Linked DNA regions of Homo sapiens: region 2 is linked to region 1. Evidence: fine-mapped expression QTL. Tissue or cell type: whole blood. Region 1 holds a variant in brackets; the other region holds the start of a gene. All regions are shown on one strand. Distances are between the middles of the regions. Region 1 has its middle 35 kb from the start of QDPR. Region 2 holds the start of QDPR (quinoid dihydropteridine reductase).

Evidence for each region. PIP is the estimated chance that this variant, and not a neighbour inherited with it, causes the effect.
Region 2: it holds the start of QDPR, and the variant in region 1 is fine-mapped to the expression of QDPR in whole blood (TOPMed, PIP 0.97). The same link has a PIP of 0.9 or more in lung.

Annotation. Positions count from the first base shown.
Region 1 is chr4:17,476,183-17,478,986 of GRCh38, forward strand. No RefSeq gene overlaps it. Among named protein-coding and RNA genes, the nearest start is that of QDPR, 35 kb to the right of the region's middle. The variant A/AG (reference allele first, on the strand shown) is at 1,342.
Region 2 is chr4:17,510,690-17,513,493 of GRCh38, forward strand. QDPR (quinoid dihydropteridine reductase) reads right to left here and starts at 1,401. Exons shown (of 7, transcript NM_000320.3): 1 at 1,261-1,401. The coding sequence starts at 1,365. RefSeq lists a silencer at 1,030-1,609.

The sequences.
Region 1 (2,804 bases):
ACTTTGGGAGGCCAAGGCAGGTGGATCACCTGAGGTCAGGAGTTCAAGACCAGCCTGGCCAACATGGAGAAACCCCGTCTCTACTAAAAATATAAAAATTAGCCAGGCGTGGTGGCAGGTGCCTGTAATCCCAGCTACTTGGGAGGCTGAGGCAGGAGAATCGCTTGAACCCGGGAGGTGGAGGTTGCATTGGGCCAAGATCGCACCACAGCACTCCAGCCTGGGCGACAGAGCAAGACTGTCAAAAAAAAAAAAAAGAAGGAAAGAAAGAAAGAAAGAAGGAAGGAAGGAAAGAAAGAAAAGAAGGAAGGAGAAGAGAAAAGAAGAGAAGAGAAAAGAAAAACATTAAGTTTCTTCCAATAATCCCCTGCACAGAGCTCTAGGACAGCAGAAACCCCCGGCACAGTAGGATTTTCTGTCTAATGTGCTTTCTTTATCCCCCACGGAGCTTTGCTCCCCACCGTCTCTGTCTCTAAAATGCCCCCCAGTGGCCTTTATTTTACATCTAAGTGATGGTATTACAATAGAAATTGACCTGAAGGGGAAAAAACTTGGACTCAGCACCAGTTTCCTCCCATGGACAGAGCCTCCGAAACTGACCCTTCCCAATTCTTTTGCCAAGCCCCCAGGAGAGGCTGTCCGTCGCACTTTGAAAGGCAGCATGCAGCCACACCATTCACTTCACTTAGACGCTTTCTATTTCCTGAGATTTTAAGCAGCTGTGACTTAAAAACACTCATAGGTGACAGCAGCATATTGCCCAAGTCCCCAGCTAGACACAATCTGCCACAGAATGTGACCACACCGGGAACACCTCTCCCCAGGCCCCAGGCTATTCCAGAAGGGTGAGTGGTGATATTGCTACCACCCTATCATTGCAACAAGTAGAAACTGAAATTAAGAACTAATGGCTTTGGGGCAAATTAAAAATGCAGAAGTCAGAGGCACTGTTTCCCAGAGAGGCCCACTCTTCCCTCTGAAGTACAGAAAAAAACGGTAAATACTAACCAGCTGCCATCTCACTGAATACCCACAGCCACACCATAAGGGAGATGGTAGCACTCCCATTTTACTGATAGGACACTACATCGGTCAGGGACCAGCCAGAAAACAGAACCACTCCAACAGAGGAAATTTAATAAAGAGGATGGGTCATATCAGAGACGGAAAAATCCAGAATCCAAACAGGGGACAATGAAGCGACCCAGAGATGAGCAACAGTGAGAAGCCACTGCAACTCAAGGGCTGAGAATCAAAGGAAGAGCCGTGGGCAGGCCCTGGGGAGCTGCTTCCACCGAGGAAGGAGCCAGTCAGTGGGAGCGGGGAAAACAGAGGAGACGC[A/AG]CCACAGCTGAAGACGTCACCACTGCCCCTGAGATGCCACTGAGGCAGGAGGGGTAATGGGGATACTGTGCTTCTCCCCTCTCCCCATCCTCCCTTTCTCTACCAGGCCCCCAACTGCCTGACCCTACAGGAAGCCAGGGACAGGGGAGCCTGGAAAATGTGGTGCCTGACATGCAGACTGGGACTGAGAAGGGCAAGCAATAAATGTGAGAAAAGAGGCCAAAGGCTGGCCCATTGCTCGTGGTCCCATAACTACGGTGTGGCAGGGCCAGGTAGTGAACAAAGTGCACCTGTGTCCACCAACCTGCTGCATGGAGGAAGCCACCAAGGAGATGAGAGGCGGACAAAGCAGCAGATGGCAGGAATAAACAGGAGGAGATGTTACCGTCATGCCTCCCTAACCAGAGAATCATACAAACCACCAAGGGTGGCGCTTGGGTGTGGACCCCGGCTCCCTGACTCATTTGCATCACTTAGTAGGGATGTGCGGGATAGTAAGCTTCTCCAAGGCTGTTTCCCTGTCCACTCATTCAGCACTTACTCAACACTGAACAGGTGGAGAGGCACTGTGAAAAATAATGCTTCAGGGGGTAAGAGAAACTAATCTTCATCCCTTCTCTCCTCTACGTTCCTAACCCACCAGGAACAGACAGGAAGGTAGAGGTGAGAAATCAGTTCTGCATAGGCAAGAAGAGGGCAGGAGAGTGAGCAACCCACACAGCCCAAAGTCCATGCAGCAGACCCGCCCCTGGTCCATATGTTCCAGTCAGTCTTTATTTACAGTCTCTCCAATCAGATAAATCCGTCCTTCCTCCTATGGTGAGGAGCAAGTGAGGACCTCAAGAGAGGAAAAGATACATTCCTGCAAAAACCTTCCCATCCTGGAGGCTGAAGAGGTGAATGCCTTAAGGATATACAAGGAAGGATGTATGTAAAACCCCACACACACAGCAGATGGCCCATGAATGCCACATATCATTAGCACATTCAGGGACCAAGTGCCAATGTGCAATCTCTTTTTGTTTGTTTTTGAGATAGGGTCTGTATTAGTCCGTTTTCACGCTGCTGATTAAGATATACCCAAGACTGGGAAGAAAAAGAGGCTTCATTGGACTTACAGTTTCACATGGCTGGGGAGGCCTCAGAATCATGGCGGGAGGCAAAAGGCACTTCTTACGTGGTGACGGCAAGAGAAAAATGAGAAAGAAACAAAAGCAGAAACCCCTGATAAACCCATCAGATCTCGTGAGACTTATTCACTACCACGAGAATAGCATGGGAAAGACCGGCCCCATGATTCAATTACTTCCCCCTGGTTCCCTTCCATTCCCACAACACATGGTAATTCTGGGAGCCACAATTCAAGTTGACATCTGGGTGGGGACACAGCCAAACCAAATCAGGGTCTCACTCCATGATGGCTGGAGTACAATGGCATGATCACAGCTCACTGCAGCCTCAAC
Region 2 (2,804 bases), 35 kb after region 1:
CACCCTCTAACACATGACGCTAACAGGATCTACTGCCTTAAAGATATTGGGGGCATTAAGAGTCTATGGGAACTCTGGTACTGGGAACACAGTGCCTGGCCCTTGGCAGAAGTGCTGCCTCTGTCACCACCATGCATCTCTGAAGACCTGGGAAAGCGCCCTCATCAGTGTCCCCAAGCACTGAGCAGATGGGTGGCAGGAAGGGAGTGGTGTGACTGAATTCTTCAGAAGCATATTCCTGTACCAGATTCTGAGCAACAAGAAAACCTTGGTAAATGTACACTATTTGGGTGATGGTTACACTAAAAGCCCAGACTTCACCACTACACAACATATCCATGTAACTAAACTGTACTTTTGCCCCCTTCATCTATAAAAATTAGATAGTTTTTTTTTAAAGAAAATCCTGAAAGCCTTTTTCTGGTCCCAGGGGAACTCTTGCCCAGGCTGCTGTGCTGCTGCTGCTAACTAAGCTCCCAGAACGCTGCCGCTGGCAGTGTCTCCACCGGGAAATTGCTGAGGCCTGCTGAGCGGCTGAGGTCAAGGGTCTTTGGCCATGTATCAGCTCTGCTCCGACTTGCCGCCTCCTGGAAATTGACACCTGACTATGCAAAGTAGTTGAAATAGTCTTTGCAGAGCAAAGAAGCCGTCAGCGTTTTTCCGTGCTGAGCCTTCAAACTGTCAGATCCAATGGGGCTAAAAGAACAGGGGTGGGTAGTAATAGTAACATTAATAGACAGCATTTAAACAGTTTTTACCAGGCGTCAGGTAATTTATGTGCAACGACACCAATTATCTCATCTAATCGTCCCAACTCTCACTGTCAGAATCTCCGTTGTACAAATGGGGAAACCGAGGTCCTACGGCGTTAGGTAATCAATACGCGGTCTCATGACTAGTAACCGGGACTGGGCTGTCTCATTCTAGAGCCTTCCTTCTACACTCTCTCTCCGTCCTCTCACCCCTGCTCCCGTTCCTCCCCTTTGGAATTCTCTCCCGAGTCACGCCGGACTTTTTGGGTCTGGCGGAGGCCCACGGAGCACCTCCTTGCACAGCAAAGGCCCAGCGCCCTGGGACTGGCGTGCGCACGCACTCGGAAACAGGAATAGACGCGTAGACCTGTGCGCGCACGTGCAAGCAACACGAGTCAGGGGGTGCACAGGGGCCCCCACCTTCCTCTAGACTGCCCCCCGCCGGGTTCCACACGAAAGCCCCCGGCCACCCCCGCGGAGACCCAGCAGCCCCAGCCCGCAGCATTACCCAGTTGCGGGCCCGAAAAGCCTGCACGCATCGAGAACCCAGAGCGCCCCTGCCGCCGTACACCAGCACCCGGCGCGCCTCGCCTGCAGCCGCCGCCGCCGCCATCCTGCTCCTGCCAGCCCGGCTCCCGCAGCTCCGAATGCCTCGAGCCGGAGCGCCGCGCCCCGCCCCGGCCGGCCAACCCCGCCAAGAGGGAACGCGCGGCGGCCGCGCCCCGCTCCGCGCCCGCTGCTGCCGCCTAGCGCGCTGCCACGCTCGGGGCGCCCCGCCACCCGGAGGGACTGTAACTTCGGCCAGGCCCTGCCCCTGGGACGGGGACATCGGCGAAGCCCCTCCTCCCACCCGCCAGCAAGTGCTGGGCCTCGGGGCGTGCAGCGAGCCGGGCTAAGGGCGAGGAGGGTGGAGAGCGGGTGTTTTACGAGCATTAATTTGTGAAGTGTAAGCATGTAAAATATAGTATAGTACAATTTTCGACCACTGTTTTGGCAATTTTTTATTTTTAATTGTGCATCAAAATAGAGATTTAAGTATTCCCACCTGCCAAAAAAACAGAAGAGGTCGCTCCGCTCAAGGAGCTGAAAGTCCACCGCCGAGACGAGACAAACCACACTAGGTCTTATTTCTTCTATCTAACCGTAAATTTATACCCATTAATCCAAATGGCCCTTTTACTATATGCCACCCATCGCCAGACACAGATCCTGGCATTTTCTCCCTTGTATATTAGTTATTTCTGCCCATGGCCTGTATCTTTAACACAGAGCCTCTCATCTACAGCACTACTGACATTTTGGGCCAGATAATTATTTGTGACAGGTGCTGCCCTGGGTACTGTAGGATATTTACAGCATCCCTGGCCTGCATATACTAGAAATCAATAGCAAACCCCTACCCCTCACTCATAAGAATCAAAAATATCTCCAGATTTAACAGTTGTCTCCTAGGGGCAAATTCATCACTGATAGAGAACCAGAGCTCTAACACTCTCATAACCTTCTTGATAGCAGAACCCTGTATTACATACATCTTTGTGTCACTTCCCATCCACATATAACCTTGTACACAGCAGACACAGATGTTTGTTCAGTAAACTTGTGCCAGGTAAAGCATGCAGAAATATGTCACTAGAGAAGAGGATGCAGCCAGCAGCACATTTTGTTGTCAGAAGCTTCATTATCAGAAATAGAACTGCTAGGAGGCTGGATGGAGAGGAGAGCACCATCTATTTAGTGCTCCTTATATCCAAGGCACTGCGCTAAGTGATCTGCCTGTGCTATTTCACTTTACTCCACACGATAATCCTATGCAGATTAGAAAGCTGAGGCATGAGAGTCACAGACACTTGTCTGGAAGAGTGGGAATTTGAACACAGGTCTTCAATAGCTAGAGTTCCACTTAACCACACCTTTGTTCAGCAAGACAAAGGCTTGTTGGGAATCAAGTGTTTCCCTTAGAGTTTTTCTGAAAACAATTGCTTAACCCTCAAAACACCAAAAGTTGACACAGGTCCCTCACTGACGGCAGAAATATGACTCAATGATATT